Regions from separate parts of the Homo sapiens genome. Here regions 2, 3 and 4 are each linked to region 1. The links come from fine-mapping of genetic effects on gene expression. A gene starts in region 1. Each other region holds a variant in brackets. All regions are shown on one strand. Distances are between the middles of the regions. Region 1 holds the start of E2F3 (E2F transcription factor 3). Region 2 has its middle 25 kb from the start of CDKAL1. Region 3 overlaps E2F3 (E2F transcription factor 3). Region 4 overlaps E2F3 (E2F transcription factor 3).

Region 1 (5,797 bases):
AAATACCCTATATTAAAAAAACTTGGGTAAGGTAGAATGATAAATATCTGAAAGCTTTCTAAAGCAGAATTGCAGGTGTGGGTCTAGAGTGTGAACACTTGCTTTCTTGTGGCTGTGTCGTATTTATCTTATTGCAATCACTTGTGGGGAGCTCAAGCCAGGATTCTATGCACAGCCCCAGTCCCAGGCTGGTCTCTAATCATAAGGCGCAGGTCTATAATTACTGTGTATGTTGCACCACTCCTCCCTCACAACCCCCACTACTGCCACCAAATGCAAGCTGCCAGTGATGCTCTGCAGATGGTAATATCCAAGTAGTGACAGTACTAGTTTCTTCCACAGGTATATCCATAGAGGAAAGCAACATTGATGGAACAAGAGCAGGGAAGCTGCTGGTATATTACACTTCTAGCTCATGCCCTTTGAGTACCACTTAATCTGCCCTAAAGATAGTGTCACTTCTGGCCAGGCGCGGTGGCTCATGCCTGTAATCCCAGCACTTTGGGAGGCCAAGGGAGGCGGATCTCCTAGGGTCAGGAGTTCAAGACCAGCCTGGCCAACATGATGAAACCCTGTCTCTACTAAAAATACAAAAATTAGCTGGGCGTGGTGGCACGTACCTGTAGTCCCAGCTACTCAGGAAGCTGAGGCAGAAGAATTGCTTGAACCCAGGAGGCAGAGGTTGCAGTGAGCTGAGATCGTGCCATGGCACTCCAGCCTGGGCAACAACAGCAAGACTCTGTCTCAAAAAATAAAGATAGTGTCACCTCTACCAGTGTCGACAAATGTTTAGGGCTATGGATCCTCAACTAGCCTGAATGCAAGACTAAAATATTCCTGAGCCTGGTGCAAGGTTTAATGGAACTTTTAACTCATCTGTTTCAGAAAAGGTAACAAGGCTAAAATATTAAGGAGTCCTAGCCTGATCTGACACATCTTGTCAGGTGTTTCATAGCACTCTGAGTAAGAGTTTTGGGAAATTAATAATAGTAATAAAAATCTTGTGAAAGGGCTCAAGGTGTTGCAATCCTCATCACCTATGAGCACCAATTCTGCAGCTGTTTTGCACGTAACTATAAATTATGATCTAGTCTCTACATACATAACTTCCCCCACATTCCTGCAGGGGTCTCTTTTCCTGCTCAATCTCAGGAGCAAGCTTTAATTTTAAGACCCATGAATACTTGAACAAATTCAGGAGTCAGTTTGACACATCATTTTATATTTTTCTGATGACAATTTCTAGTTTACTTTTTAAAAAAAGACACTATTTTAAAAATACTTTGGGATAGGTTTGAGTCGTTGTGTTTGCTTCCAGTCAGAGAACTTCCTACAAAACTGAAGATATAAAGTGCTGATGCCTGGGCGTGCCTGCGTTCGTTGGGGGCACGACGTCATCGTGGGAAGCGTGTACTTTTTCGGATTACTGCTTGGCGGATTAGAAACCCGTAGATCAGTTCTAGGTTAGCCCTGATTAACTGCCCTGGGTGTTTCTGGGCCAGAGGGAATGTCTGCTGGATTCAAACCAATATCCGTTGTAAGACAAAAGAGTTAATTTGTACTTTACCCCTATCCAGGCTAATAATGAAGGTACCGGGAATGATCTGGAATGTTAACTGGTGCCCGCAATCGCGTCTGCTGAACCTTCTGCCCCCACGATTCTGTCTGCCCACATGCTTCTGTCTATCAGCCCCGGCCTCGGGATCAGCTCTCGCCGCGTCATTGGTTGGATTTCAGGAAGGGAGAAGCCCACGATTTAAAGGGCTCCTTTTGCACCTGCCAGACATCGTCCGCATGGTCCAACTTGCCTTTGGCACGTATCTGGAAAAATCTCCTGCGCTGTTCGTTTATTGCACTGACTGGTCAAAGGAAAGAGTGTTCCCTTAGTCACCTTGACAATTTCCAAAAGCGAAACTTGGGCTCTAGACTAGATCTACACTGAGTCTGCGGGGCGCGGAGTCCCTGCCCAGGTCAGTAGCGCCGGCCCGGCGGGCGGGCGGGGACAGGGGCGGAGCCTAGGCCAGGCGTGGTCTTCCGTGGGAGAGAAGGAAATTCTTTGCCCCACCCCCTAAAAACTGCTCTTCTGCCAGCCAATCAAGGAGGCCTATGCAAATAGGGTCCCTGTCGCCCCGGTAACCATGATGCACGGCAGCCAATGGAAACCAGCAAGTCGCGGCCCTGCTCCATGATTGGGACTGAAGTAAGGAGGTAGCGGCCCAATGGGCTGTGGGAACGGTCCTCGGCGGGTTGAGGGGCGGGGATATGCAAATATGGTTTGAAAAGCCGGCGGGAAATCCGAGTTTCGCGGGAGGACCTTGGCGCGTAAACCGTATCCCTTCATTCATTGTCAGCAGCAGCTTCCTGGAGCCATTTTTCAGCTGCCGGCCGCAGCACCCGGGCTGCCGCCGCCGCCTCGCAATCCGTTGCATCGGCCGCCCCCGACGCCTCCATCCCCGCTTGGGGCCCGATATCCGTGCGGCCGGGACCCTCCTCTCTCCAGAGCCCCGATTATTTTTGGCCCCCGGGGCCTGTGCGGTGCGGAAAAATAAAAAGAAAAGAGAGAGAGGGGGCTCGGAAGCGCCGGGCGGGGAGGAGAGAAGGAGGAGAGACTTGGAAACTCCGACTGCAAATAATAAAGAAATTGAAAACAATACATTAATATACCATAACACTAAAAAGAGCAGGAGCGAGAGATGAGAAAGGGAATCCAGCCCGCTCTGGAGCAGTACCTGGTGACCGCCGGGGGTGGGGAGGGGGCGGCTGTCGTCGCCGCCGCCGCTGCAGCCTCCATGGACAAAAGGGCACTGCTAGCCAGCCCCGGCTTCGCCGCCGCCGCCGCCGCTGCCGCCGCCCCGGGCGCGTACATCCAGATCCTCACCACGAACACTTCCACCACCTCCTGTTCCTCCTCCCTCCAAAGCGGCGCCGTAGCCGCCGGCCCCCTCCTCCCCAGTGCCCCCGGCGCGGAGCAGACCGCCGGCAGCCTCCTCTACACCACGCCGCACGGACCCTCCAGCAGAGCCGGGCTGCTGCAGCAGCCACCAGCGCTGGGACGCGGCGGCAGCGGCGGCGGCGGCGGCCCTCCGGTAATACCCTCCCTCCCCACCGTCCCCAGCCCCGGCGGGAGGTGGGCTCGCACCGCGCGGGGTCGTGGGCGCGCTGCGGGCCGCTCGGGGAGAGCACTGGGCCGAGCATCGTGGGCCTCGGGGGCTGCCCCTCCAACGAGGGTTCATTGTTAGACCTGAGTGCTCTTCCCGGCGCCAGGAGGGTCGGGGGGCTCGGCCAGGCGCGCGGGGCGGCGGGGATTGCCTTGGCGCGAACCACATCAAACACTCCAAAACTTTTCGCGGCCCCCCCTTCTTTTCCTGCACTTTTCCCTACCCCCACTCTCCCTTCCCCTCCAACTCGAAGCTTCCTCTTTCTCGGGCGTAGGAAGGGGTCACGCCCCGGATGGAGAAGGGGGTGGGGGAGGGAGTAGTGAACTGGGGTGTGGGGGGCTCTGAGGGGTTGAAACCGGGGGACTGTTGGGGTGCTAGCCCCCAGTCGGCCTTGGAGGCTCGTTGGCGGCCGGGGGTCCCTGCGGCGTGCTCGGAGCGCAGGGGATCGGCGGGGCTGCGCTTGACACATTTTAGGATCTGTAACTCCCGGCAACAAAGGGGCTGGGGGAGGTGGAGGGGAGTCGGGCGTGGGGGAGGTGGGGCTGGAAGCCGGGTGCGGACTGGGGCGTGGGCTGTCTGGGGTGAGGGGCTCGCGGGCTGGCGCTCTGGCCTGGGCGCATCCTGGCAGTGGCAGCGGCGGCGCCCGCGTGGCCCAAGCGCCCAGGCCTTCCTCGCCGGGCCCCGGGCCTGCCCTTGACCCGCCTCTCCCCTTGCCCCTTCCTTCCCCGCCCTGTCCCCCTCTCCGCCCCCCGGCGACGGAGGGCGGGGGCAGCTGGGTTCCCGTCCCGCCGCCTGGGTCTGTCCCTCTCTCCGGGACCCGCCGGTGACGTTTCGCACACGTGCGCGCAGGACGCGCCTGTGACTGGGGAGGAGGCGGCGGCGGGAGGGGGCGCTGGAGGGGGAGAGGGGGGCACCCACTTCCTCCTGCTCGCCGGCTCCCTGGCCTGGGACGGTCCCGGCGCCCTCGCACCCGCCCCCGGCACCGCCACCCTCCCTCTCCTCTCCCCACCCCCCCACCGGCGCCCGCCCTCGCCCTGCGCCGCCGGTCTGTTCGGCCCTCCGGGCCCCCTCTCCAGCCGGCCCCCCACCTCCCCCCGGAGCCAGGCTGGTTTCGGAAATGCCCTTACAGCAGCAGGTTAGTGACCGGGACGGCTCGGGGGCCGCCGACGCCGCGGGGGCACCGGATTCTGTTGGGGGCTGAAGCGGTGAGGGTAGGCGGTTGAGCGGGGTTTTGGAGTGGGAACGGGGGGTTGGGTGCTCGAGGGAAATGAGTAAGCAAGAAAAATCTAACTAAGTAAATGCCCCGGCCTCCGGTTCTAGGAACCTCGGGGCGGGAGTGTCTGCCCCAGGGGGTGGGTATGGTGTTTACGTGGATTTTTTTTCTAGGGGGCGGATGGATGGGCGATAGAAAACCGGAGGGGGCTTCTCGCCAATGGCCGAGTTGAGCTCTGTTTTCTGTCTTCCTTCCCTTGTGCTGGAGGGGGAGGGGGGTGGGTCAGAGGGTAGGGTGTCTGTAGGATTCCCAGGCCACCCGCCACCCCCTCCCTTTGTCCCTGTAATTTATAAAGCGCCTTTGAGAGATGATTTAGGTCAGTATGCGGCTTCTCTTTTTGTTGGTACTAGAAAGAAGTGTGGCCCGGAGGTCTCCCCTTTCTCCTTTTCTCTCCTTCATTCCCTTCCTCCATGCCTCCGGGTCTTCACCCTCGTGGTGAGGCTTGGCCTCCACGGGGCTAGAACCGAACCAGACTCAGTTAGATCCATGGTAGCCTGATTATACCAGGCGTGGACCTCACCTTGTCTCAGCTCCAAATGGGTTTAATTTTTGGAGAATCAAGATTTTGCGGGAGTCTTTAAGAAAGTCAGCACATAGGCAGCACTTTGGGAAATGGGATGGGTTTGGGAATAATGAGGCGTTTTTTATTTCTTTCCTGTTCCCAGTTTCTCCCCGGGTTCGGTCTTAACTGCTTTCCAGCCCCAGAGATACTTGCTGGGCATGTGTGATGTAGTCTTAGTCAAAGAAGCTCATCGTTTTTTAGTGACTAGGGTCTGCCAGCAGGGGGGAAACGGAGCACAGTACCTGCTTAGACATAGCAGTATCCGGTGTGCTGGGTTTTCAGTCGCAAGAATATTCCATGCTTTTATTAGCTTCAGATACTCTTACTGACTTGACCTAAGCATGTTTGGACATATTTTAAGCATATTTGACCCCTGCACAGTTCTGTTACTATTTCATAAACCTAACCTTAAACAACCAGCTATTGACATACTTCTTGGATTAGATTCACAGATTTGCAGGGGGTAGTTTTGATAATGGGAAATTATGAGAGCTTCAAGTTGATTTTTAAAAAATTTTAACAGTGTTTGTTGGGCCAGGTCCCTAAGACTATCTTTCAAGCCAGGTTTATTATATCTAGTTCATTGTATTTAAGTATTTAAAGTATACTAAATTACCCTCACCATCTTCCAAGTTATTTCAAAACTTTATTCTCCTTGACATGAAATTATTATTCCAGGAATAATAATATCCTTTTGAGTTTATGTGCACACAAAAGGTTTTTCATTACAGGAATATAAATGTTACTCATATACATATTCAGAAGCATTTTTTATATGATTGCAATGTATGCTGAATCATTGGT
Region 2 (5,797 bases), 110 kb after region 1:
ACTGCTTCAGGGACACCAAATGGACAACATGGAAAACCTCAACTCATAGTGAATATCCTATTGCTGCATTTACCAAAAATATAGTGGTTGCAATGTAATCTCCTACACTTAATTATATAGAGCTATTATTATTATTATTATTATTATTATTATTATTATTATGTTAAGACAGAGTTTTGCTCTTGTCACCCAGGCTGGAGTACAGTGGTATGATCTTGGCTCACTGCAAACTCCACTCCCGGGCTCAACTGATTCTCCTGCCTCAGCCTCCCAAGTAGCTAGGATTACAGGCATGTGCCACCACGCCTAGCTAATTTTTGTATTTTTAGTAGAGATGGGGTTTCGCCATGTTGGCCATGCTGGTCTCGAACTCCTGACCTCAGGTGATCCACCCACCTCGGCCTCCCAAAGTGCTAGGATTACAGGCCTGAGCCACCGCGCCCAGCTATGCCAGCCATGTTTATTGAACAGATTCAGATGTCATCTCAAAGACCCTCTTCTCTTGGCTCTGTTTTTGCTCTCAGCTCTTCTCTTATTTTTGCCTCGATTTTCAGCTCTACCACCCCAGAACAAAGGCCCACTTTTAGAAGTCAACATTTTTGAAGATCTGAGGAAAAGAGCATATGTTTTAAGATGGTAAAAGAAGAGCAATTTAAGCTGGTAAAAAAAAATGTCTGGAGGTGTTTAACAGCTCAATGTTTTGCAGCATTGAGCACTTGACTTTCATTATGCTTCGAATGGTAAGAGATTGATGATACATGCTGGGCTTCTTTTAAACCCGTAAACAGGACTACTGAAATGGAAGGGCTGTGGGAATCGTGTCATATGAGGACTTTTGAAAGACTACAAACTGCTCATTTTAGAATCATTAAAAATGAAAGACATTGGTCTTGGCTCAAGGAAAAGGAGATCAAGAATTTTGACAAGCGCTTTCTTTATTAACTCACACTCTTCCCATAAAGTCCTGTTAAATAAACTTAAAAACAAATTAGTGAGGCAATTAAGAAATGAAAAATGAGAATTGTTTTGAAGGTAATATGTACACAGGAATGAGGTTAGTGTATAAAATGCATCTGTAAGGTACTGCACATTTGCTAGAAAAGAAACACTAATTAAAGTCCAACCTCTCTAGAACCAAAAGAGAGAAATATGATATATTACATGATTCAGAGTTTATGGGATAAAACAAACCAAGGCTCAGAAGAAGGCCTAACTATTCTTGGTTCTGAGATTCTGAGATCACAATTTATCTGAGGTTCTTCACAGAGCAACACTGTTTAAATGTAGTAGGCAACAAAAGTAGTTCAATTCCACAAATGTTTGAGTATCTGGATGTTTCAATGAGGGTGTTTTTCGTTGAGATTAACATTTACATCAGCGGATTTTGAGTAAAGCAGACTTCCCTCCCTGATGTGAGTGGGTCTCACATGATCAGATGAAGGCAAGTAGAACAAAAGACTGACCTTGGAACAGGAGCGGATTCTGCCAGCAGACAGCCTTTGGACTTGAACTGCAATATCCACTCTCCCCTGGGTCTCCAGTCTGCCAGCCCAACCTAAATATTTGCATTTACCAGCCTCTATAATCTCAATCTCTCAATCTCTCTCTCTCTCTCTCTCTCTCACACACACACACACCACACACACACACACAAACACACACACGTATACTATGGGCTTTGTTGTCTGGAGAACCCTGACTAATACAGCATCTATGCAGTAGAAACCTTCTCAGTGTCTGTTCTTCCTCCACTATCAAACCACAGGGTGAGGCCAGGGCACAGTGGCTCATGCCTATAATCCCAGTGCTTTGGGAGGCCAAGGCTGGAAGATTGCTTGAGGCCAGGAGTTTGAGACCAGCCTGGGCAACATATAGCAAGACCCCATCTCTAAAAAAAGTTGTTTTTTAATTAGCCTGGCATGGTGGTGTGCACCTGTAATCCCAGCAACTTGGGAGGCTGAGGCAGGAGGAGCCCTCGGGCCCAGGAGTTTGAGGATACAGTGAGCTATGAGGACACCACTGCACTCCAGCCTAGGCGACAGAGTAAGATCTTGTCCCCCCAAAAAACATTAAAAACCAAAAAAATACTCTACACAGTCACAGGCGAGCCCTGTTATTACACAACCCTCCCTTCCTAGACTCAACTGACTGAACCCAGTACCCTCCCCAGAGATTGGAATTGGGGTTAAGAGATATTAGTGTCTATCTCAAATGAAGGAGATGTAGCCATCAGGAGGGCTGCTCAGCTATCTTCCAAGTGAATTGAATAGCAGAGAAACGCCTGGCAATTAGAGAAGAAGGGAGCTCAGGCATTGAGAGAAACAGATGAGAGAAGAGAGAGCAATGGGTTCCTGGGCTTCCTGAAGCCAGCTGCACTCTGGCTCTGGAATTCTCATTACCATAAATCCTTCATTGCTTAATTGGGCTTGAGTTTGTTTCTACTACTTGCAACCAGAAGATTCTAACTAATGTATCCGGTGTGTCAGATAATTTGCCAGCCACTAGGGAATCAGAGATTTAAAAAATAAATAAATAAATAAATAAATCATTAAAAAAGACCTGGTTCCTTCCTGCAAGAGATTTCCACTAAGTCCCTTTCTTGCAAGTCCTTCCAAGGGAGGGATATATATGTAAGAGATAAAATCTATACAATATATAATAGAAAGTGAGGAGACAGTGTTGCCAGATTCAGAAAACAAAAACAGGGTGCCTAGTTGAATTTGAATTTCAGAAAAACAATGAGTAATTTTTTGGTATAAGGGTGTCCCGAATATTTTACCTGGACCTCAGATATATATTGTACATTAAAGAAAGGAGACTTAACCCAAACTAAGCCATCTGAGAAATCTTATTAATTTATTTAGTTATTTGGTTAGTTCTCTCCTGGAGAAAAGAAGGCTTGGGTCGAATTTTGAAGCATAAGTAAGAATCCACAGCGGGCTGGGCATGGTGGCTCATGCCTGTAATCCTAGCACTTTGGGAGGTCGAGGCAGGCAGATCACCTGAGGTCAGGAGTTTGCGACCAGCCTGGCTAACATGGTGAAACTCTGTCTCTACTAAAAATACAAAAATTAGCCGGGTGTGGTGGCACATGCCTGTAATCCCAGCTATCCAGGAAGCTGAAGCAGGAGAATCACTGGAACCTGGGAGGCGAGTGAGCAGTGTGAGCAACTGCCTTCTGCAGTTGTCAGAGGACCAGGGAAATGTTTTCACCAGG[G/C]GAATGGTTTTATTATATTTGTATTGTAGATAGATCACTGGCTGCAGTGTGAAAAACAATTTGGGGGAAACAAGATTAGAGGCAGGGAACCATTTAGGAATCTGTTTAATAGTCCAGATAGGAGTTGATGGGGACCTGAGCTAAGGCAGTGGGAGTAGGAATAAAGGAAATACTCTGAAAGTCTTTAGAAGATATAGTCATTGGAACTTAATGATTGATTGGATGTGAAGAGTGAAAAGTAAAATCAGTCAAGGATAATGTCCAGGTTTCTGATGTGTTTGACTGTTGTTGTTTTAACTGTGTGGGTTGTGTTAGTAATGGATTTTGAAAAACAGAAGGAGAAGCAGATTTGGTTAAAATTAACATTAAAAAAGAAAAAATAATAGTAATAAGAATAACAGCAGGCTGGGCGTGGTGACTCATGCCTGTAATCTCACACTTTGGGAGGCTGAGCTAGGAGGATAACTTGCGGCCAGCAATTTGAGACCAGCTTGGGCAACATACTGAGAACCTGTCTCAAAAAAAGAAAAGAAAAAAATAGCTGGATGCCATGAGGCGTGCCTGTAGCCCCAGGAGGCTACTCAGGAGGCTGAGGTAGGCGGATTCCTTGAGCCCAGGATTTCAAGGCTGCAGTGAGCTGTGGTCAGGCCACTGCATTCCAGCCTGGGCAACAGAGTGAGACCTTGTTTCAAAAACATTTTTTAAAATTAAAAAAAGAACAGCAGCTGGGCGTGGTGGCTCACACCTGTAATCCCAGCACTTTGGGAGGCCGAGGTGGGCGGATCATGAGGTCAGGAGTTCGAGACCAGCCTGGCCAACATGGTGAAACCCCATCTCTACTAAAAATACAAGAATTAGCTGGATGTTGTGGCATACGCCTGTAATCCTAGCTACTCAGGAGGCTGAGGCAGGAGAATTGCTTGAACCCAGGAGGCGGAGGTTGCAGTGAGCTCAGATCACACCATTGCACTCCAGCCTGGGCAACAGAGTGAGATTCCATCTCAGAAAAAAAAAAAAAAAAAAAAAAAGAACAGCAAATAATAATGGATGACATTTATTTTCTATTATATGCTATCTATGATTTTATTTTATTCTTTAAAATATCTATATCTATTATATAATTTAATGTTATAGACATTCTGAGACATGGATTTTTTTTGAGACAGAGTCTTACTTTTGTCACCCAGGCTGGAATGCAATGGCTCAATCACAGCTCACTGCACCCTCGACTTCCCAAGCTCAGGTGATGCTCCCACCTCAGCCTCCTGAGTAGCTGGGACTATAGGCACATGCCACCACACCAGGCCAGTTTTTTGTATTTTTAGTAAAGATGGGGTTTTGCTATGTTGCTCAGGCTGGGCTCAAGCGATCCACTCACCTTGGCCTCCCAAAGTGCTGGGATTACAGGCATGAGCCACCTGACCAAGCCTTATTAGACCCTTTTGACAGATGAGAAAACTGAAGTATAGCAAGGTTAAGTCACTTGTCCAAACTCACAGACAATACCCTTAATGAACAGTGTTATTGTTATTACAGCAAATTAGGATTCTTATAATGTCTGCTTTAATCTACTACTGCATGACTACATACCTCAAAACTTATTGTCTTAAAACAGAAGTAAACATTTATTTTTTCATACAGTTTCTGTAGTCAGCAATTCAGGAGCAGCTTAGTTGGGGTGGTTCTGGTTTGGGTATTTCATGAGGTGGCAGTCAGGGTGGCAGCCAGGGTGGTAGTTATTTGAAGGCTTGTCTAGGGATGGAGGATTTACTACAAGCTGGCTCATTCTGATAGTTGGCAAGTTGTACTGGCTGTTGGCAGGAGGCTCAGATCCGCCCCATGTGGACTTCTTCATAGGGCTACTTAAGTGAGTGTCCTCATGACATGGCCATCGACTTCCCCAGAGCAAATGATCCAAGAGAGAATCACTGGGACCTGGGAGGTAAGTGAGCAGTGAGCTACAACAAGGCATATGCTACAATGTCTTCTGTGATGTAGCCTCAGAAATCACACAGTGTCATTTTGTCAATATCCTGTTGGTGATACTAGTCTGCCATATTCAATGTGGGATGGGAATATATAAATACAAAGGTAGACCAGGAGCGGTGGCTTACGCCTGTACTCCCAACACTTTGGGAGGCCGAGGCGGGTGGATCACAAGGTCAGGAGATGGAGACATCCTGGCTAACACGGTGAAATCCCATCTCTACTAAAAATAAAAATGAATTAGCTGGGCATGGTGGCGGGTGCCTGTAGTCCCAGCTACCCAGGAGGCTGAGGCAGAAGAATCACTTCAACCCAGGAGGCGGAGGTTGCAGTGAGCCAAGATCGTGCCACTGCACTCCAGCCTGGGTGACAGAGCGAGACTCCATCTCAAAAAAAAAAAAAAAAAAGAACTATGCCATAAATACAAAGGTAGGGACCATTGGGGTCATCTTGGACACTGGCTGCCACATATCCCTTTATCTGACTGTGTGACATTGAGTCACAGCATCTGTCAACAGTGCAGTCCAGCTCTCAGCTCATCTGACTTAACCCACAGACAGATTTTTAGAGACAAGCATGCACTCCATACCCTTA
Region 3 (5,797 bases), 73 kb after region 1:
GTCCATTAGTATATGTCTGCTTAAGTAAATAAATCGTGGCATATTAATTAATACAATATTATGCAGCTATGAGAAATGAGATCATTCCATGTGTTCTGATAAGGTCTAACTCGGACATATGTTATTAATAGAAAAGTGTGTGTTTTGCTACGATTTATGGGAAAAACTTTTTAAAGATGGGATGGTAGATAGTCTAGGTAAATACAAGTATGTATATAGCTATCTGAAAGGATATCCAAGTAACTTCATAGTGCTTGCCTTTGAGGAAGGGAACTGGGATCAGGAGTAGGGAGAAAGTTTGCTTTCCATTTATACTCATTTATGCTGCTTAAATTACCATATACATTTATTATATGTAAAGAAGAGTTTTTAAATCAGGAATAAAATAAAGTGTGTCATTAAGGCAATATCAACTTAATCTAGCTATTCAAATATTTTTACATGGGACTTTTCACAATCTTTTCATGAAGTAGTTATAAGCATGGACTTGTAGGTGTGCTTACTGGCTATAGAATCTTGGAAAAGTCAGTTAATCACACTAGACCTCCCTTTTCTTCTATAAAATAAGAATTAATAATAGCCACCTTATTAAGGGTGTTGTGAAAATAAGATAACAAAATTGAGTGGAAAACAGTTAACATGGTGCGTAGCATATTATAAGCACTCAAATATTTGTTGTGTAATAATTAATACTAAAGGTCTGTATCTATCAGTGGTATTAATAATAATCTAATTCAGCTGCCTTATACCAAAAAGGGATATTTGTGGGCTCACACAAATGAAAGTCTGTGGCATGTGTGCCTTTGGGTATGGCTGTATCTAGCACCTCCCTTGAAGGGATTGGGACTCAGCCTTTCCCCAGCTCTTCTGTGTTGGCTCACTTCCCAAGTAGCTCCAGGCTCGCACCCTACTGGCCTAATAATGCCCAGTGAAAAGAACCCAGTACTTTCCCAGTGGTTCCCAAGAAAAATCCCAGGATTGACTGACCCTTCCTGCATTGGTCATGGTCTCATCTTTACCCCAGACACTTGAGCCTTGGGATTGAGGCCAGGATTCAGTACTCACCTCTGCAACTTTGATGGGAAGAGTCGTCCTAATGTTGATCAGTCTCAAGTCTTGTCTTTTCATGCTTGGAGACTAATAGAAACTAAGAACATCAGTAGAGCTCCTTCCCCAGTGGAAAAAAAATAGGGGCAACAAATATCAGGCAGGCAGACTATAGATGTTCCCCACTGGCTCCAGTGGTAATTCTTTTGGGGTTTTGTGGTTTTTTTTCGTTTTGAGAGAGAGAGATGGGAGACTTGCTGTGCTGCCCAGGTTGGTCTCAAACTCCTGGGCCCAAGTGATCCTCTTGCCTCAGTCTCCCAAGTACCTGGGACTACAGGCGCATTACCATTGCACCCAGCTCTAACTACATACATTTTCCTACATAGATTTTCAGAACTGCTTACCAGTACAACTGTTTCTTTGCAGAGGCATGTTAACGTCCATGGGGCTGAGGTTTTAACGTTAGCACATACCTTGTTTATAGTACAAGTTACCCTTGAAAGTACTGCCGGAAGGTGCCACATGGAGTTCCACACAGAATCTCACAGAGCCAGGCTTTACCACTGCTTGGAACCAAATGGCCCATCCTTCTGTTGATTACTGGATAAGTTGGCTGTTTTACTGGTAGGGGCCATGTAATGTAAAGATCTGTGCATAAACAATGAATACCTCTCCAATCAGTACGATGCTCACGCTGTGAACTAACAAAAATTGAGATGACCAAGAGAAGAGATTTCCATCTACCCTGGTGCTCAGCCCAGGGCAGGGTGGTGTAGACAGAGCTCACCCGCACTATTTAAATCCTGTCATATAGTTTTTTGTTTTACCAGGCATGTGTGCTTGAATTTGCTAAGTTAAGCATTAAAATAATGCTGCTCCATCAAATATCAAAATTCTTAGCCCTTTTTCAAGAGATTCTAATTATTGCACCCATGTTCAGATCTGAGACCAAACAGGTAATATGTGGTCCCCACAAATCCAGTTCCGCCCTCCCTGTTCACTCAACAGGGGAGGAAAAATAACAGGATAACCCAACGGGAACCTCCCTTCTGAAAAGGGGAAATGACATAAAGTGCTCACCTCCTGCTTCTTGTCATGTCCTCCACAGGGACAGCAGTTTGTAGAGCCTATAAGTCCACCCCAAGTTCCACCTCCTGGGAGGAATTCTGGGGCTGCCCCTTCTTCACACCTCACTTATTTCTGGCGTGGCTTTTGGACCTAGTGATTGATTTCCTTAGAGGTTCAACATCATGGACCTTCACTTTCTAGACTTAGTGATTCTTTCGCAATAAAAGTGCCTTGCAATTTTAGTAGCTTGTCCATCTAGCATTCAAATTTGGTCAATTTATGGTTTGGTGCTTAGTAACGAGAGTTACACATGAAGACTAGTCCCGGTCTTTCGAAGTTAAGTCTCAGTCACTTAGCAGCAGACATGGAAATTTCCCTAACCTACAGTTTAATGGTTCCATAGGCCTTTGCCTCATGGCAGTCTGAAACAGCAGCCTGGGAGGGAGAGATAAAACTAGTATGCCCCCAGCCTGCTGACCAGTGGGTGGTTCTTTACTGCTGAGGCACGGCCCTAGGTCCCTAGGAGTTCTGGGTCCCAGACTCTTTTCCAAGTTTGCCTTCTTTCTGTTCACTTTATTTTCATTTTTTGAGACAAGAGTCTTTCTCTGTCATCCAGGCTGGATTGCGGAGGCACCAACCTCCACCTCCCAGGTTCAAGCAATTCTCATGCCCCAGCCTCCCAAGTAACTGGAACTACAGGTGCATGCTACCATGCTGGGCTACTTTTTGTATTTTTAGTAGAGTTAGGGTTTCACCAGGCTGGTCTCAAACTCCTGACCTCAGGTGATCTGCCTACCTCGGCCTCTCAAAGTGCTGGGATTACAGG[C/T]GTGAGCCATTGTGCCCAGCCCATTTGTTGACTTTAATTTGGGCAGAGAATACAGCTCTATGTCTCCTTAGATTGCTTTCTGTAGAGAAGGCCTCCATAGCAAAGCTGTTTTCTTTGAGGCGGGCCAGCCTCAGATGAAGTTTCTCTCTATCTGTAGTATCTTCCTGGCGGTCACAAGAAGTGACCAACACACTCTGCCACTCTCTAACAAGGCCTGCCAACTCCCTGTCACACCATAGCCATCTTGACTCAGCCAGTTCCATAAGCTGTCACTGGCAACAGCACAATTCTAGGTTCCCGACTCAAAACACTTGAAGCAGCTGGGCACGGTGGCTCACGCCTGTAATCCCAGCACTTGAGGAGGCCGAGGAAGGCGGATCACGAGGTCAGGAGATCAAGAAGATCCTGGCTAACATGGTGAAACCCCGTCTCTACTAAAACTACAAAAAATTAGCCGGGCGTGGTGGCGGACGCCTGTAGTCCCAGCTACTCGAGAGGCTGAGGCAGGAGAATGGCATGAACCCGGGAGGCGGAGCTTGCAATAAGTTGAAATTGCACCACTGCACTCCAGCCTGGGTGACAGAGCGAGACTCCGGGTCTCAAAAAAAAAAAATGCTTTAAGCAAAAAGGAGAGTTTATTGGCTAATGTAACTGGAAAGTCTGGGAAAGACCAACAGTTGCCCCCAGGGCATGACCAGAGCCAGAGTTTTGAGTGGTGGTCTCAGACCCCTCTCTCTCCTTCTCTCCACTCTGCTTTCCCCTGGGAAGGCCCCATTCTCAGGCAGCTTTAGGCTCCTCACTTACCAACCTTACTGGAAAGACATACCTGCTTCTTGCCAGATAGTTCCAGAAACATTCCTGGGGTTAGCCTTTGCTCCTCCAGCCTTGGTCATAAGCCATTCAACCTGTTCGCGGTGGGGGCGGGGAGGGCAGGATGGGCCACAATGATTAGCCAGGCCTGGATCACCTGTGTGCACAGATGCGCTTAGACCAGGAAAGGGATGGCTCCCCAAGGAACAAACAGGGAGCTTCTGCCTGATAAAGAGTGAATGTTTGCTGGACCAACCACAGCAGGCCCACACAAGGACTTGACAGAATGGCTGGGAGGGGAAGATGAAGTCCAGCAAGCAGATTGTCCTTCCGGAGCCATTAGAATGATGTTTAACTTAGCACTGCAGTAGAAAGATAAGGTGTGCCACTGAGGCAAGCCACATCGTAAAATATATATATAAAGAAACAGATGAAATAATTTTAATGCTACATCTGACCCATTAACAACATTGGGGTTAGAGGTGCCCTGACACAGTCAAAAATTTAGATAGATCTTTTGACTCCCCTAAACTTAACTAATAGCCTGTTGTTTGGGGTTTTCATTATTATTTTAGTGATGGGGGGTCTTGCTACGTTGATCAGGCTGGTCTTGAACTCTTGGCCTCAAGTCATCCTCCTGAGTAGCTGGGATTACAGGTGTGATCCATGCACCCAGCCCTAATAGCCTACTGTTGACTAGAAGCCTTACCAATAACATAAACAGTCATTAACACATTTCATATGGTATATGTATTATATACTGTATTCTTACAATGAAGTTAGAGAGGAAATGTTATCAATAAAAGAAAGTTTGGAATGAATGAAAGTGGAATCCACAGGATAGATTTCCCTCATCAGCCAAGCAGGACTAGAGGTGAGGGTGTGTGAAATAGGCCGTGCTGGGCAGAGCTGGGCTTTGCCTGAGTGTCTTACTCTTTTCCCTTATGATCTAAAGCCAGGTTTCTCCAACTTTAAGGTGTATCAGAATCACCTGGAAGGCCTGTTAGATTGCTCAGCCCCATTCCCAGAGTTTCTGATCCAATGCATCTTAGGTATGCTCTGGAATTTGCGTTTCCTAGCAGCTGAACTTGGTCCAGGGTTCAAAGTGTAGAAGGCATATGGGCATATAAAGCAGCTGGATGAAAAAAAAATCATAAGGAAGAGAAAATAGATTTACTATTCATTACTGGAAGTGGATCATCATAAAATTCATCCTCGTTATCTTCACATTGAGGAAGGTGTGGTGAAAGAAAAGAGGAGGGGTTGGTCTTACTGTCTCAGGGATGACAGAGGAAGAAGAAAACCCACATATAGGTGGACACACTCATGGCCGGGTGCAGTGGCTCACGGCTGTAATCCCAGCACTTTGGGAGGATGAGGCAGGAGGATCACTTGAGCCCAAGAGTTCAACACCAGCCTGGGCAACATACAGAGGCCCCATCTCTACCCAAAAAAAAAAAAATTTAAATTAGCCAGACATCATGGTGTGCACCTGTGGTCCCATCTACTCAGGAGGCTGAGATGGGAGGATTCCTTGAGCCTGGGAGGACAAGGTTGCAGTGAGCTGAGATCACACCACTGCACTCCAGCCTGGGCGGCAGAGCAAGACCCTGTCTCTAAAAAAATAAAATCAGTGGAAACGGACAGTCCAAACCCATGTTGTTCAAGGGTCAGTTGTATTTTATTTATTTCATTTAACATGTGATCACTACTAAAATTGTTGAGATATTTTACCCTGTTTTGTACTAAGTCTTCGAAATTCAGTGTGTATTTTACAATTATAGCACATGTCAGTTTGGATGAGCTAGTAACCAGTGGCTATCGTAGTAGACGGTGCAGGGTTAGCTGGTAACTTTCCATAGAGGGGCTGAATATCTAGCTTCCGCTGATAAGTTATTACTTACGTTTTCACATCACGGGGAGTTGTTTTGAAATTGCAACTCTCGGCTGGGTACAGTGGCTCACGCCTGTAATCCCATCACTTTGGGAGGCCAAGGTGGGCAGATCACCAAAGATCAGGACTTCGAGACCAGCCTGGCCAACATG
Region 4 (5,797 bases), 22 kb after region 1:
GCACTACAGCCCAGAACTCCTGGGCTCAAGCTATCCTCCCACCTCAGCCTCCTGAGTAGCTGGGACTACAGGCATGTGCCACCGCGCTCGGCGATCTAGCATAGTTCTTAAGGGCCCTAGGGTTTTTGAAATGGTAAACGATCATTGGCTTCAACTTAATGTCACCAATTGCATTAGCCCCTAACCAAAGAGTCAGCCTGTCTTTTGATGCTTTGAAGCCAGATATTGACTTCTCCTCTCTAGCTATGCAAGTACTAAGTGGTATCATCTTCCAATAGAAAGCTGTTTCATCTACATTGAAGATCTGTTGTTTAGGGTAGCCACTTTCATGAGTGATCTTAGCTAGATCTTCTGAATAACTTGCTGCTGTTTCTATGTCAGCACTTGCTGCTTCGCGTTGCACTTTTATGATATGGAGAAGGCTTCTTTCCTTAAAGGTCGTGAACCAACTTCTGCTACCTTCCAACCTCTGCAGCTTCCTCACCTGTCAGCCGTCAAAAGAGCTGATGAGATTTAGGGCCTTGCTCTGGATTAGGCTTTGGCTTAAGGGAATGTTGTGGCTGGTTTGATCTTCTATCCAGACCACTCAAACTTTCTCCATATCAGTAATAAGGCTGTTTTGTTCTCGTGTCATTTGTGTGTTCATGGAGTACCATGTTTAATGTCCTTCAAGACCTTTCCCTTCACATTCACAACCTGGCTAACTATTTGGCACAAGTGGCCTAGTTTTTTGCCTATTTCAGGTTTTGACGTACATTTCCTCACCAAGCTTAATAATTTCTAGCTTTTGATTTAGAGGGAGGGATGTGTGATTCTTCCTTTCACCTGAACACTTAAGAGACCATTGTGGGATTACTAATTAGCCTAATTTCAGTATTCTTGTTTCTTAAGGAATAGGGAGGCCCGAGAAGAGGGTAAGAGACAGGGTACAGCTGGAAGGTGGAGCATTCAGAACACGCACAATGGCTATCAATTAAGTTTGCCATTATATATTGTTACTAAACATTATTTAGTGACATTAGTAATTGCAATAGTGACATCAAAGATCACTGATCACGGATCACCACAACAGACATAATAGTAATGAAAAAGTTTGAAATATTACGAGAATTACCAAAATTTGACAGAGATATGTAGTAAGCACTGTTGGAAAAATGGTGCTGATAGACTAGCTTGATGCAGGGTTGTCACAAACCTTCAGTTTGTAAAACACTGCAGTATCCGTGGAGCACAATGAAATGTGGTATCCCTGTATTGTTTTGCCCAAGCCTATTATGTTTCTTTTGATTTTTCTATGATGTATTTCTTTCTACATATGTTTATTTAGTTTTTATAATGTCATGTGTCACTTAACGATGGGGATATAGTCTGAGAAATGTGTCATTAGGAAATTTCATCATTTTGCAGACATCATAGAGAGTACTTACACAAACCTCATGGTATAGCCTACTATACCCCAAGGTTCTATGGTCTAGCCTCTTGCTCCTAGGCTACAAACCTGTACTGTATGTTACTGGGCTGAATACTGTAGGCAACTTAAACACAGTGGTATGTATCCAAACATAGCAACAGTATAGTAAAAATACAGTCTTATAATCTTATGGGACCACTGGAATATATACAGTCTGCTGTCGACTGAAAGCATCATTGTTTGGCAGATGACTACATGTGACATTACAGTGCTTTTTTTTTGAGACCAAGTCTTGCTCTTGTCGCCCAGGTTGGAGTGCAATGGCACGATCTCGGCTCACTGCAACCTCTGCCTCCTGGGTTCAACCGATTCTCCTGCCTCAGCCTCCCAAGTAACTGGGATTACAGGCGCCCACCACCACACCCAGCTAATTTTTGTATTTTTAGTAGAGACAGGGTTTTGCCATGTTGGCCAGGCTGGTCTCGAACTCCTCACGTCGTGATCTGCCTGCCTCGGCCTCCCAAAGTGCTGGGATTACAGGTGTGAGCCACCACACCCGGCCATTACAGTGCTTTTTTTGAGACAGAGTTTCGCTCTTGTTGCCCAGGCTGGAGTGCAATGGCCTGATCTTGGCTCACTGCAACCTCTGCCTCCCGAGTTCAACCGATTCTCCTGCCTCAGCCTCCCGAGTAGCTGGGATTACAGGTACCTGCCACCATGCCCGGCTAATTTTTTGTATTGTTAGTAGAGATGGGGTTTCACCATGTTGGTCAGGCTGGTCTCGAACTCCTGACCTCAGGTGATCCACCCACCTCGGCCTCCCAAAGTGCTGGGATTACAGGTGTGAGCCACTGCACACAGCCGAAATTACAGCTTTTACAGTTTGAGTTTGGTGGCTTGCTTTGGGAAGGCCTTTCCTAATCTGCAAACCATAACAATATTCTATATATTTTTTCTCCTGGCTTCATAATTTTATTATTTTGATCTTTAACCTCAGTGGAAGGGTGTGTGTGTGTGTGTGTGTGTGTGTGTGTGTGTGTGTGTTTTAAAGGTGTGACTTTATTTTTCCTAAACGAATAGCCAGTTAAACTAGTGCCATTTATTGGATGGTTCCGCTTTCCCCACGCATGCACTTGAAATGCCCTTTTCTCAGAGAGACACAGAGAGAGTGTGTGTATGTGTGTGTGTGTGTGTGTGTGTGTGTACATGCATACATGCATGTATGTGCTGTGTGCATGTGTGTCTGTGTTGTTCTGTCTCTGAACTTTCTACTCTGCTCCATTGATACCTTTATCCCTTTGTAAAGAAGCAGCACACTGTTTTGAATACAGTAGCTTTGTGATATGATTTGCTATAGATAAGGAAAATCTGCTTCCTGTTACATACTTTTTTTTTTCATTAAAATTACAGTTTTTATGTTCATGCTTACTTGCATTTTTACAAATTGAGCTTCTTCTCCCCCATCCACTGTGAGTTTAGGGTTATAAGAAAAAAAACTCTCTGCACTTATTAGATAGTCTACTGCACTGGGAATAGCAGTAAGCTGTTTACATTTTTTCTTTCATCTGATACAACAAACCTTGAGAGTTGGTGCCAATATCCTCATCTGTAGATGAGGAAAGTGAGGCTCAGTGATGAAGCAGTTTGTCCAAGGCTGCATTTCTGGACATTGGCAGAACCAGGGTTCCAGACCAAGTCCAGGAAATTTCG[A/G]AACCTCTCTTAACCATTATGCAACCCAGACACGTGGGGTTTTCTCACATGACGAGGGCAGGCCATTGTCTAGGGCGGGTTATCAGGTGTTTCTCCATGTCCTGCAGGGCGGTCAGTGGCTTTTACAGAGTAGAGTGTTTATTGCATGAAGGGAAGACCTAGCAAGATCTCTCTAAAGGATTTATCCATTGGGGCAGCAAGAGTTGAAAAATTTGGCTTTGCCAAGGGTATTTGTTCAGATTTAGGATACAAGTCAAGTTGGGACCACAGGCTAAAGTTTAAGTGAGTGGGGAGAGAAATTATTTACCCAGTGCTTTTTTTTAATGCCAGACACTGTAACCCTTCCTCGGCTCTTTTCTAGAGTTGGGTCTGTGGTTTGGAATACAAAGGTGAGGAATACACAGCCCTGGACATTCAGAATGGGGCAGTAGGCTGGGAGGAGCTGTGCGCACAACCCCAGGAACCTTCTACTTTTTTTTTTTTTTTTTTTGAGACAAAGTCTCGCTCTGTCACCCAGGCTGGAGTGCAGTGGCACGATCTTGGCTCACTGCAAACTCTGCCTCCTGGGTTCAACCGATTCTTCTGCCTCAGCCGCCTGAGTAGCCAGGACTACAGGCGTACGCCACAATGCCTGGCTAATTTTTGTATTTTTAGTAGAGACGGGGTTTCACCATGTCGGCCAGGCTGGTCTTGAACTCCTGACCCTAGGTGATCTGCCCGCCCGCCCCGCCTCGGCCTCCCAAAGTGCTGGGATTACAGGCGTGAGCCACTGCGCCCGGCCCCTTCTACCTTTTAGAAGAAAATGCAACAACGTGTCTTAGCTCTCTAGTGGAGGAACAGAGGTCTCAGGTGGATCCAGAAATGCTTTGCTATAGAGTGGCATTTAAACTGGGACATTCATGTGTCTAAATTACCTAACAGTTTGAGCCCTCCCTTCCCCCGAGGTGGTTGCTTCTTCATTTGAATTCTCTCAGGTGCCTTCTGTTGGTTCTTAGAGGTGAACATCAGAAAAGTAATTTTCTTTGGAGAAGTTTGAAGCAGCCTCCCAAACAGAAGTCCTGTTGAGCTCCCACTGGGAGTTTTGGAAAAGTAATCTCATTTATTAGGAATAGTGTATTGATTTTGTGTGTAAAATGGACTAAGAGGCCTGTGACAATGAGTCCATTTGAAATTGCAAATTTAAATATCTAATACAATAGTTGTGCGGAAATACTACACCAGAATATAAATGATTAGCTGCTTAGTGAATTTCTCATGTGCATGTAATTAATTGGCAGTGGTGGTGGGGATCAAGTTTGTTTTCATATCCTGAGTCCTTTAATTTACCTTTTCTTCAACAATTACTGGTGTAAGTATAGGGGAATTAAATCTTAGTGTCTTTTATAAAAATATATAGTTTTGCTTTGTCATTCATTTATTGTTTTTTGGTCTACATTATCCAATTTTGTATTACACAATAGAAGGCACCTAATCAAAGATTTCTTGTTTTTACTGCATGATTGCACTCTTAATTTTGTGAAAGCATAGGTTTACTTCCAGACTGAGAGGTAAATGAATAATTATTTTGTGATTTATTTAGCACTTGCCGCCCCAATCTTGTTTTTCACGTCTGCAGTTATGGCTGAAATATCTTATTCCATTCCCAGCCTCTCTGTTGGTGGTATCTGCCTGATCTCCACCTAGTGTCATTGTGGGATCGTGGCCACACATGGGCCTTCCAGGGCTGTGCTGTTGGTGACCAGTGGTGCTTGTAACCCTGAAGTGTTGGCATGGCCTCAGCTGACTGGGCTTTCCCTCATGCCCAGGGCTTAAACTTGAACTCTGCCTGCTCTGTTAGCAGTTTTTCTCTACATTTCTTTTAAAATAGACTTTCACTTCTTCCTTCCCATCCCCCCCAATACAACTGCCCTGGCATCCTGGCTTTTTCCATTCTTGACAAATGATCTGTCCACTGTAACTGTAGCTCCACTGTGCTGATATCTGTTGAAATTAGACCTAGAATCTAAATGTGGCTCCATGAAACTATGGGTGAGACATTTTTTTTCTTCAAATAGTCTATGGTTTATTGGCACCCCAAACCACCTATCCATACCTTCTCCACTGTGATGCTGGGGGAAGAAAATGGGGTAATATATGTGTAAAAGTGACTGAGAATGAAAAGTTCTGCATAAGGTACAATGTTAGCTGGGGTTTTTGCATATATAATAAGAAGACAAATGTTCACTACCACTCCTGCCTGCCTTCCCTGGGCATATCGAACTGATTCCAGCCTAATAGCATTTCTTATCATATAATGGGAATCACAAACCCTCCCTATGTCCACTCCTACAGCGCCTTCTTACCCTAATGAGGCTTTGTAACTCAAAGATTTAAACATCTCATTTATGCTCCATTGACTGAGTTAACCAAACACTTTGTATTTGGCCCTTTCCTCTTAGAAGTTCAGAACAATAATATGGTCCTGAAACTACTCCTGCAAAATCTGCTTAGGGAAGAAGGGTCGGCCAGGGCAGGGGTTACATTGGGGTTTGCAGTGTAGTCAGGCACCAGGGACCTGGCAGGTTGGGTGGGATCAATTCTTTTCACCTCAGGGCTCCAGTTTCTCATTTGTCAAATAAAAGTGATTTCTAAGGCCCCCTTCTGCTCAGACCTTCTGTGACTGTCCACTAAGCCACA

The links. PIP is the estimated chance that this variant, and not a neighbour inherited with it, causes the effect.
Region 2: its variant is the best candidate, but not a certain one, in a credible set for the expression of E2F3 in whole blood (INTERVAL, PIP 0.88).
Region 3: its variant is the best candidate, but not a certain one, in a credible set for the expression of E2F3 in whole blood (INTERVAL, PIP 0.88).
Region 4: its variant is the best candidate, but not a certain one, in a credible set for the expression of E2F3 in whole blood (TOPMed, PIP 0.90).

The regions. Positions count from the first base shown.
Region 1 is chr6:20,399,540-20,405,336 of GRCh38, forward strand. E2F3 (E2F transcription factor 3) reads left to right here and starts at 2,340. Exons shown (of 7, transcript NM_001949.5): 1 at 2,340-3,086. The coding sequence starts at 2,694. It overlaps LOC124901482, which reads right to left and starts at 3,233. Exons shown (of 3, transcript XM_047419652.1): 1 at 2,886-3,233; 2 at 2,730-2,841; 3 at 1,202-2,623. The coding sequence starts at 3,233. The coding sequence ends at 2,016. RefSeq lists silencers at 1,915-2,154, 3,005-3,474, 3,675-4,294 and an enhancer at 2,253-2,777.
Region 2 is chr6:20,507,013-20,512,809 of GRCh38, forward strand. No RefSeq gene overlaps it. Among named protein-coding and RNA genes, the nearest start is that of CDKAL1, 25 kb to the right of the region's middle. The variant G/C (reference allele first, on the strand shown) is at 3,218.
Region 3 is chr6:20,472,831-20,478,627 of GRCh38, forward strand. All of the region lies in intron 1 of E2F3 (E2F transcription factor 3), which reads left to right. Among named protein-coding and RNA genes, the nearest start is that of E2F3-IT1, 38 kb to the left of the region's middle. The variant C/T (reference allele first, on the strand shown) is at 2,942.
Region 4 is chr6:20,421,796-20,427,592 of GRCh38, forward strand. The region is part of intron 1 of E2F3 (E2F transcription factor 3); the gene reads left to right. It also overlaps the pseudogene RN7SL128P. Among named protein-coding and RNA genes, the nearest start is that of E2F3-IT1, 13 kb to the right of the region's middle. The variant A/G (reference allele first, on the strand shown) is at 3,122.